2 separate regions of the Homo sapiens genome follow, and region 2 is linked to region 1. A link means that fine-mapping ties the variant in region 1 to the expression of a gene that starts in the linked region. Tissue or cell type: whole blood. Region 1 holds a variant in brackets; the other region holds the start of a gene. All regions are shown on one strand. Distances are between the middles of the regions.

What was found. PIP is the estimated chance that this variant, and not a neighbour inherited with it, causes the effect.
Region 2: it holds the start of LONP1, and the variant in region 1 is fine-mapped to the expression of LONP1 in whole blood (INTERVAL, PIP 0.97).

Annotation. Positions count from the first base shown.
Region 1 is chr19:5,640,960-5,646,452 of GRCh38, reverse strand. SAFB (scaffold attachment factor B) reads right to left here. Exons shown (of 21, transcript NM_001201338.2): 3 at 4,795-4,859; 4 at 4,507-4,713; 5 at 1,054-1,116. Among named protein-coding and RNA genes, the nearest start is that of SAFB, 21 kb to the right of the region's middle. The variant G/A (reference allele first, on the strand shown) is at 2,814.
Region 2 is chr19:5,717,279-5,722,516 of GRCh38, reverse strand. LONP1 (lon peptidase 1, mitochondrial) reads left to right here and starts at 2,371. Exons shown (of 18, transcript NM_004793.4): 1 at 2,371-2,813. The coding sequence starts at 2,385. CATSPERD (catsper channel auxiliary subunit delta) reads right to left here and starts at 1,880. Exons shown (of 22, transcript NM_152784.4): 1 at 1,709-1,880. The coding sequence starts at 1,779. RefSeq lists enhancers at 2,122-2,221, 2,174-2,690, 3,724-4,239, 4,240-4,756 and silencers at 2,502-2,551, 2,682-2,761.

The sequences.
Region 1 (5,493 bases):
AGCCAGGGGAAAGTGACAAGATCCGGCTCCTCCTCTCCTTTCTGAGTCGGGAATGGCCGTGTCAATTTGCAGGTGGAGAGACGGCAGCTCTAAAAGCGAACTGGGTTTCACCACGTTTTCTTGAGATTTGTGCCCTCCTCAAGGTTGGAGCTCTGGCTTTCCAGTATCTCCCTTGCCCTTGCATGGCAGAAGCAAATGGAGATCTTTTCCAAAAGGGGATTTCTAATTACAATAACATAGATGACATTTAAAAAGAAGACGGGAAAAAAAATAAATAAATAAAAAGGCTGGGCAAAAGCTGGCTCGATCTTCATTTCTCCACAAAAAGTTCTCCTAAGAATTAGCCAGCTACCTAGGTAAGTGTGTTCTAACAATTTGTATCTATGTAGGCTGGAAAAAAAAAGGAAACTCAAGACCCACAAATATAAAAATCATACCTGGAAATTCTCAACTCATCTGTTCTCATCTAAGATTTAATATTTACAGAGATGCCAATGAAACAGGTAGGATGATACAGTCATTAAATGAAATCTGGGCAATTTCAGAAAAAACAAAACAAAAACAAAACAAAACAAAACAAAAAAAACTTCCCAAAGACAAGACCAGAACCCCTGAGACCCCACCTTCCCCAACAGGGCTCTGTCAACCCTCAATCCCCATCTGGGCCCTACTCATCTTTCCCAGGTAGCCATGCCCTCTTGCTGTCTCATCAAATCATCTTTCTGCAGGGGATGCCACCCAGGGTAGATGAGACAGGCTGCCTTCCCCTGCCACAAGCAATGAAATTAAGAATGCCACAAAACATGACTCTAATGACTGCTGGTAAGCCACAGCGCTTGGAGGCCACTCGTCGAAGCCTAGAGTTAAGTCCCTGGCAATGCGTACATTATATTTGGAGGAAAGCAGAAAGCAAACACCCATTAACGATCCTGACAAAGGAAACAACCCTTGTGGTGATTATTAGCTGGAACTGGCATATGGTGTCTGAAATGGATTCCAGAAATTGTGGTCTGACCTTTCATTCTAAAAGTACTGAGACATACAACAGTTTACCTGTAATATAGTGAAGTCAGATGATGAAGTATCTAAATTGTTTATAGTTTCTTTGTCCTCTATCTGTAAAATAAATGGAGAAAATACAGTTCATCACACCAACAATAACGTAACATAATGGTACATCTGTACAATGAAAAGTGAACAGCTATGAAAATAATTCACAACAAAATTTTAAACCCAGGGCAGAAATCAAAACACTATTATAGTATAATTGCAGCTAAACTGAAAAAAAAGTTGTATGTAAATGTCCACCTGCACATAGACTAGGAAATCTACTAATATGGTAGCTATGTAGGTTTTAAGATGCAAAAGAAAGAAAAAAAGTCTAAGTCAAACAGAAAAGAGATGAAAATGAGTGCACAGCCTCTAAGTGGATCTGAGCACAGGGTGAGGGCTGTTCTTCCAGGAGCAATGGCTAGAGTCCTGCTGAAGTGGAGCCTTCAGCCACCGCTGCTCGCCCAGCCTGGATGCTGAGGATGTGGGACCTGCTGCCCCTGGGGTAGGTACCTCCCTCAATGGAACAGCATCTCCCAGCATGAGGGTGAGGACAGGAGCTCGAGACTGGCAATATCCTATGCCCTACTTGCAGGGGAAGAATAGCTTTTATTCTAAGAAGTAGGCTCTGCCCAATAAGGCAAAGGATTCCCCAAACAAAGAAAGGGGGTTCAGATAATTTGTGACTGAAACCAATTTTGGCCATCTGCTCTAAAGCCCTGAAATTTGAGATATACTTAGGGGGAGACGTTTTCAGATATTTTATAACCAGCATGTATTTTTATCACTATATTTCACTAGGAAAGACACGCACACGATCAGAAGACTCAAAAGGTACAAAAGCCCATTCACTGAAAACCACTCTCCACTACTCCTTTCTTCCTGCCATGCAGTGGTCATCGCATATGCTACACACGTGTTTAAGTGCCAAAGACCATCTCCCCTTAGACATCTGCACCAGGGGCAGCACATCATTCTGAACCCTCCCCAAGTGTCACTTCTCTTTTGGAGATTGTTTGAGTTCACACAGATGTGCTTAATTCATTTTGATGGTTACACTGCAGTAAAAACTGTATTCGTGGTGGTACATTTCATAACTCTACGGTGCTTTCTAGATGCTAGGCATTGAACTAGGCTGGGAAACACTTTGTTGGAGCTGCCTAGTAAATTCTTCAGGAATTGTAGAACAGATGAGTCAGGACTCCTCTCTGACACTAAAGCACAAAAGCAGCCATAGACAACAGTATCAATAGGTGTGGTTGTGCTCTCAGAAAACTTCATTTACACCATGAGACCCTGTCTTGAAAAAAAGCAAAACAAAGCAAAAACAAAAAAACCCCAAAACAAAAACAAAACAAAACAAAAACAACCCAGGTGACAGCCAACTTGATGACTTCTGCTTTAAGTGTATAATAAACATCCATCCATTGAATCTTCCGAAAACCTCTTGCAAGTGAGGAGCAGAGGTTAAGGAGTTTGTCCAGGGACACACAGAAATTGATCCATCTCCAGAATCTACCTCTGAACTCTTTTTTTTTTTTTTTGAGAGTCTCACTCTGCCGCCCAGGCTGGAGTGCAGTGGCACAATCCTGGCTCACTGCAACCTCCACCTCCCTGGTCCAAGTGATTCTCCTGCCTCAGCCTCCTGAGTAGCTGGGATTACAGGTGTGAGCCACTGTGCCCAGCCAAGCCACCGCACCTGGCCTCAACCCTTAAAACTAAACTGCTTCCAGGCATTTAGGATGTTTCCAGCTTTTGTTGCA[G/A]AATGTATGATTTTCTGCTTAGGAGGGAAAAAAACAGCCTTAAGAAGATGCAGCCATTCAGGAAGGGTAAGTAACTCCTGCTGCTGTGCAAGTGTTTCTGCTACTCCTTTTTAGAAGCTGATGAATGGGACTCACCAAAAATTGCACACCCTATTTGTATCAGAATAACTCTCAGCCACTTCTCAGACTCAAATCCTCCATTCAAATATGACAATCTGCTACCTCTAAGGATACTTGGAATCAGTTCCAAGAGGAAATGCAAAAATATTCTGAAGAAATGCAGAAGCGGATTGACTGGCATACAACAAGGTTTCTGTCCACCAAGACTGCTTGAGAAGCACTCACTGCGGAAGACCTAAGGACCAGGACAAGAACAGGGCCCCCCACGAGCCAACACAGAAAGGGCCCCACAGCTTCTCATATGCATCACTTTTTCTGTCTGACAAACATTAATCATCAGGTAAATGAAATTAATATCAAATTAATGGCACCAAGACAACATCGTACATAAGTTAAGTACATGGCCTCTGGAATTAGCCTGATCTTAGTTCTTATTCTGTTATGAGCTGTGTGTCATCTGGAGATGTTTTTTAGTTCTTGCCTTCCCAATTTCCTCAACTGAAAATGGGGACAACAGCACCTCATGTTGCTATTAGAAGAATTAAAGGGCACATGCTGGGCGCGGTGGCTCACACCTGTAATCTCAGCACTTTGGGAGTCTGAGGCAGGCGGATCACCTGAGGTCAAGAGTTCAAAACCAGCCTGGCCAACATGGTGAAAACCGTCTCTACTAAAGATACAAGAAAATTAGTCGGGCTTGGTGGTGGGCGCCTATAATCCCAGCTACTCACTTGGGAGGCTGAGGGAGGAGATCACTTGAACCCAGGGGGCAGAGGTTGCAGTGAGCTGAGATCGCGCCACTGCACTCCAGCCTGGGCAACAACAGCAAAACTCTGTCTCAGAAAAAAAAAAAAAAAAAAAAAAAAAAGAAAGGAAGGGCATAATGCCAATGCCTGGTAGGTAGTATTCAGGAAATACTACCCACTATAATCTTACTATCCATTTGATATGTTTCTAACAGGAAAAAAATTTAGGTTTAAAAACAACATCCAGGTTAATACTTGAGGTTAACTCTTAAGATAGGTATCAACTGGCTGTGTTTTTTTTTTTGTTTGTTTGTTTTAAACAAGAGATAGGGTTCTGTCAGACTCTGCCACCCAGGCTGGACTTCAATTGCACAATCATAGCTTAGTACAGCCTTGAACTCCTGGGCTGCTCCTTCCACCTCAGCTTTCTGAGTTACCGGATTACATGAGTGCATCAAGGCACCCAGCTCAACAATTGCTTCTTAACAGGAAAACACCAACTTCTAACCTCTTCCTAGTTCAATGCTTTCAAGGTACCTAGGCCATAACACCACAGATCAAGTCCGGCAACAGGAAGAGTCTGAATGGTTGTCCTCAAAATGTCTCATACTGTATGCCGCAAATGGATAGCAAGTACATATGAAATGTTATAAGACATCACCTTTCAACAAAACAAATTGGTTCAGAATCATCTGAACCAACTGACCCTTATTCTACTGAACTGGCATTACAGAACAACTTACTTCCCAATATGAAACTGATCACCTATTTTAATTGTGGAACTGATACATTCAGGGCACATTCTAGAGACATTGCCGGTTACCTACAGCATGTTCCTGAAGCTGCTCCGGAAGCTCTTTCATTTCCCCCTCGACTAGCTCTCTACTATCCGACAGGGACTCCTGGAGGTTATCAGCATCATCGTCTTCGACACAATCTGCAACGCTTCCATTATCAATTTCTGCTTCATCCAACACACTGATATCCATGATGTCGATGTCCTGCAAGTTCTCCAGACTGGTCTCAACATCCTCCTGTGACACAACCAGACCGAACCATCATGTGACCGCCACTGGTCCATCCACCACGCTACTCACTCGCAAGGCTGCACATACCTGTCCATCCCCAGAGTTTTCCTCCAGCCCGTTATCTTCCACACCCTCTTCTTCTGGTTTGCGCCCTGAAGACAGAATCATTTACAGCATGAGATCAAATGATACGCACTTTACAGAAGCAACAATGCCCTGAGCACTACACAAGTGGTCACTTTATAAACATCTGAGACACCTCACTACTTAGGAACACTTCCTAATCCAGGAATGAGGCCATTCCGCACAAGACAGCCCTGCCCCACCCCCAAGCAGAAGAGGTTCTGTTCTTGTCTGAGCTGTGGAAGTAGAAGTGCAGAAAACAGGTTCTTAGTAAAGTTGAACAGGATCAGACCTGTCCTCAGCTCTGCCCTTCTTCCTATCCCAAGTGTCCTTGTTTGAGGGAAAAATTATTTGTTGCAAATGTGCTGCCTTTTAGTTAAGGAACATGTTTTCCCACAGAAACTGCGCATGCCCGAGTATGCACATTTTTAATGCTTAAAAAGAAAAAAGAAGGGCCGGATGCGATGGCTTACGCCTGTAATCCCAGCACTTTGGGAGGCCTAGGCGGGCGGATCACCTGAGGTCAGGAGTTCGAGACCAGCCTGGAAAACATGGTGAAACCCCGTCTCTACTAAAAATACAGGACAATCACTTGAACCCAGGAGGCGGAGGTTGCACTGAGCCGAGACTGCGCCACTGCACTCCAGCCTGGGCAACAAGAGC
Region 2 (5,238 bases), 76 kb before region 1:
GGAAAATGTTTCTCCCACTTACTAGGTATGTGTTGTTAGGCAAGTGTGTCTTTAACTTTCCTAAGTATGCTTTCGTATCTATAAAATAAGGGTGTTGGCCGGGCGCGGTGGCACACGCCTGTAAGCCCAGCACGTTGGGAGGCCGAGGCAAGTGAATCACGAGGTCAGGAGTTCGAGACCAACCTGGGCAACATGGTGGAACCCTGTCTCTACTAAAAACACAAAAAATTAGCTGCACGTGGTGGCAGGCGCCCATAATCCCAACTACTCTGGAGGCTGAGGCAGGAGAATTGCTTGAACTTGGGAGGCGGAGGTTGCAGTGAGCCGAGACCGTGACATTGTACTCCAGCCTGGGCGACGAGAACAAGACTCCATCTCAAAAAAATAAAATAAGGGTATGGCTGGGCATGGGTGGCTCATGCCTGTAATCCCAACACTTTGGGAGGCTGAGGCAGGAGGATCACTGGAGCCTAGGAGTTCAAGACCAGCCTGGGCAAAACAGTGAGACCCCATCTCTTTTTTTTTTTTTTTCCTTTGAGACAGAGTCTCCCTTTGTCACCCAGGCTGGAGTGCGATCTCAGCTCACTGCAACCTCCACCTCCTGAATTCAAGCGATTTTTCTGCCTCAGCCTCCCAAGTAGCTGGGATTACAGGCACCTGCCACCAAGCCTGGCTAATTTTTGTATTTTTAGTAGAGACGAGGTTTCATCATGTTGGCCAGGCTGGTCTGGAACTCTTGACCTCAAGTGAGTGATCTGCCCACCTCTACCTCTCAAAGTGTTGGGATTACAGGCGTGAGCCACTGCACCCAGCCAGTGAGACCCCATCTGTACAAAAAATAATAATAAATAAAATAAAATAAGGTTAAGGAATCATTATGAATCTTCCTGTAAACATCAAATGAGGCCATACACCCTAAGAATACAGCTCACAGGTCCCTACTGAATGTGACAGTTTAGTCCAGATGGGAGTTCCCTGAGGGCAGGAACGGAGTTTCAGCAACTGGTCCCCATGGCAGGTTGGAGTATGCACTAACCTAACATTTACTGAAATTTCAAAATGTGCTGGGTAAGGCTGGGCGCGGTGGCTCACGCCTGCAATCCCAGCACTTTGGGAGGCGGGGGTTGCAGTGAGCAGAGATCGCGCCACTGCACTCCACCCTGGGAAACAGAGCAAAAACTCCGGCTCCAAAAAGAAAAAGAAGTGGGAGGGCTAGGCCCGGCGTGGTGGCTCACGCCTGTAATCCCAGCACTTTGGGAGGCCGAGGCAGGCGGGTCACGAGGTCAGGAGATCGGGACCATCCTGGCTAATACGGTGAAACCCCCGTCTTTACTAAAAATACAAAAAAAAATTAGCCGGGCGTGGTGGCAGGCGCCTGTAGTCCCAGCTACTCAGGAGGCTGAGGCAGGAGAATGGCGTGAATCCGGGAGGCGGAGCTTGCAGTGAGCCGAGATCGCGCCACTGCACTGCAGCCTGGGCGACAGAGCGAGACTCCGTCTCAAAAAAAAAAAAAAAAAGAGGTAGGAGAGCTTAATATCGGGCTGGGAGGATGGGGTGGAGTAGGGTGAGCGAGGCGTCAAGTTCGATTCCTAAAAAGAGTAAAAGGGGAGCCTCAGTGAGGTTGGGGAGCAGGCCTCGGCTCCAAGATGAACCAGCACCCTCCCGACCCCCGGCAGCACCCCAGCCCCAGGAGTCCTGGCAGCCCCACCGACAGAGCTGAGCTGTGACCAGCGGTCGGAGCCACATGGTCACAGCCGCCACCAGCATCAACATCAGCATCGACTTGGGCTTCCGCCGCCACCACTGCCCCTCAACCGCCACGGGGAGTCGCTGCACAATCCGAGTACGTGCAGGCTGAAGCCCTGCGCATGCGCATCAATGAGTCCCGGGAGCGGGCCTCCGCGCACTGCAGCCCGGCGCTCCGCCTGAATCTTGAGCATGCGCAGACGAATCCCGGGAAGCCCGAATCCGCGCACCCCAAAGTGCGCTCAGAGCCTGAGTATGCGCACCCGGCCACCCGTGGCCAGTCTAGAGTCTGAGCATGCGCATGTTGTCCGCGCGCCTAAGCATGTGCACAGGCTGCTCATGAGTTCCTAAACGTTGCGTTTGCAACACTACCAGTGTTTTGTACGGGCGCTGGCGCCTGCTCACAGCCTTCCACGTGACCGGAAAAGGCCTTCAGCGCATAAAGTGGGAGACCGGAAGAGGCGGAGACGATCCGATGCTCGAACTCCGCCCCCTCTTCTCCGCGTAGGCCCAGCTCCCTGAAGCGGCTGTTTCGAGCCACGCGCCCATCGGGTACCGAGGCACGCGCCGGGCGTCACGTGCGTTTCGCGGCGAGCGGAAATGACGCGAGTTGTGTGAGCCGCCAGTATGGCCGGGCTATGGCGGCGAGCACTGGCTACGTGCGACTGTGGGGAGCGGCGCGGTGCTGGGTGCTGCGGCGGCCGATGCTGGCCGCCGCCGGGGGGCGGGTTCCCACTGCAGCAGGAGCGTGGTTGCTCCGAGGCCAGCGGACCTGCGACGCCTCTCCTCCTTGGGCACTGTGGGGCCGAGGCCCGGCAATTGGGGGCCAATGGCGGGGGTTTTGGGAAGCGAGCAGCCGCGGCGGAGGCGCATTCTCGGGGGGCGAGGACGCCTCCGAGGGCGGCGCGGAGGAAGGAGCCGGCGGCGCGGGGGGCAGCGCGGGCGCCGGGGAAGGCCCGGTCATAACGGCGCTCACGCCCATGACGATCCCCGATGTGTTTCCGCACCTGCCGCTCATCGCCATCACCCGCAACCCGGTGTTCCCGCGCTTTATCAAGATTATCGAGGTAATGGGAGTCCCCGCCTCGGCCTCAGGTTTCCCACCTGTGCAAGCAGCGGGCTGAACCGTGGGATCACTTGAGCGCCCTTGTGTTTCGCAACTTTTTCAGACATGAAGTTTCTCGAAGGGTGCAGTTCGAATCCTTGTCTGCTCACCACTAGCTTGGGAACCTTGAGCCAAAGTCCTCTCCCTTTCGGATTTCTTAGGATCCGTTAGATGAGAGGAGTTGAACCCGATGAGCCTAGGATTATCCACTTTAGAACGCCGGTCATAGAAATCCGGGGCCGGGAGGGACCTGAGTAGTGTTACGGCGCTGTTAGTTTTCTCCTTACTTGGCACGAGTTTTGTAATACCTCCTCGCCCCAGGCGCTCTGCCGTCTGGTTACGAGCCTCACTGGGATCAGAATTCATTCCTTTCTTAGACAAATACTTCTTGATTGCTTATTATTTGCCAGAGAGTGTTCTAGGTTCTGGGGATATGGCAGTGAACAAAACAGACAAAAATTTCTGCCTTTGAAGCTGGGCATGGTGGCGCGCGCTGTACTCCCAGCTACTCTGGCGGCTGAGGTGGAAGGATTGTTGGAAACCTGGAGTCCAGCCTGGTCAACATGGCGAGACCCTGTCTCTTAAAAAATAAATCTGCCTTGGAGCTTACATTTTGGCAGGATGAGACAGGCAATAAAGATGTTTAGTAACGATATTGTATTAGAAGGCAATAATTACGAGAAATAGTAGAGCATGGATGGGACAGGAGGCTTAGGAGGGTGGGAAGAGGTGGGTTATTCAGTGTGTTCTTGACCTCCTACCACGTAGCAAGTTCTGAGAATACTGTAGAGAACAAGTCATTCCGGTGGTAGAAATTAGATCATTTCAGACTAAGAGCCTTGGGGGTGGGGAGGGAGCAGGATGATGTAATAGAGAGAAAGCAGTGAGTGTAAGGAACTTGAGCTTTTACAGTAGGAAGGCCCCAAAAGCCTTCTCCCCCAGCTCCCCTTCCCTTAAAAAAAAAAACTACTGATGTGGAAAGTGGCATCTATGGGAAGGTTATCTCCTAACTGGCAGAGCAAGGTCACGCAGTGAGTCAGCCTCTGCGCTCACTCTCCAGACTCTTCTAAACAAATCTCAAGGATCTGTTGGGAAGGGAAAGGCCATTTCAGAGGGGCAGCAGCCAGTAGAGAGGGGACAGAGGGAGCTTCTCCAACGCTGCTCCAAGATTTTTTTTTTTTTTTTTTTGAGACCAAGTTGCACTCTGTCATCTAGGCTAAAGTGCAGTGGCGCGATTTCAGCTCACTGCAACCTCTGCCTCCCGGGTTCAAGTGATTCTCCTGCCTCAGCCCCCTGAGTAGCTGGGATTACAGGCGCCCGCCACCGTGGCTGGCTAATTTTTCTATTTTTAGAAGAGACAGGGTTTCACCATGTTGCCCACGCTCGTCTCGAACTCCTGACCTCAAGTGATTCACCCGCCTCAGCCTCCCAAAGTGCTGGGATTGCAGGTGCGAGTCACTGCGCCCGGCCCCAAGGCCTTTCCTTGATGTTGAGTACTGGTTACTGATGCAGGCCCCCAGAGCAAGACCTTGTGGGGTCCTATCCTAGCTCCATAACCTTCAGCAAGTTATTCCTTTGGCTTCCCTCTTCTCATCTGTGACCTGGACATATTAGTGTCTTATTAGAGTTGTTGTGGGATTTAAATGAGGCCATGTGGGCTGGGCACGGTGTCTCACATGTTTAATCCCAGCACTTTGGGAGGCTGAGGCAGGAGCATAATTTGAAACCAGTATGGTCAACATAGACCCTGTCTCTACAAAAAAAAAAAAAAAAAGAAAGAAAGAAAAGCCGGGCACAGTGGCATGCACCTGTCTTCCCAGCTACTTGGAAGGCTGAGGCAGGAGGATCACTTGAAACTGGGAGATCAAGGCTGCAGTGAGCCATGGTGTCACCACTGCACTGCAGCCTGGGCAACAGAATGAGGCCCTGCCTCAGCAATAACGTGATGCTGTTTCCTCTTTGGTGTACTTCTGACATTTCAGGACTCTGCCCCGGAGGCCTTTTTCCCATCCTTGACTTCACCCCTGGCAGTTCTCTTTACCCTCCCAGGTTTCTGGGCCCAGGATGGTGTTCATCAGGCCTGGTCCCCTCCGTTCTGCAGAGCGACAGATGCCCCTTGCTCCCGGTGCCTGAGCAGAGAGATGATTCTTCTAAGAGAGTTCAGACGGCCCACGTGGAGCTAGCCAGGAGAGTTAAATGAGTGGCTGCAGATAGTATTTGGGAGACTGGCAGGTGGTTCTCATTGTATTTCTGGTTGATGATGCATTGTAAATCATAAAAATGGATCCTGCCAAGGCCAGGAGGCAGATGCCAAGGATGCAGCTATCAGCTGTTGGCAGAGGGGAAATTGGGAGGCAACTTCTTTGGGACCCAATAAATGTTTCTGA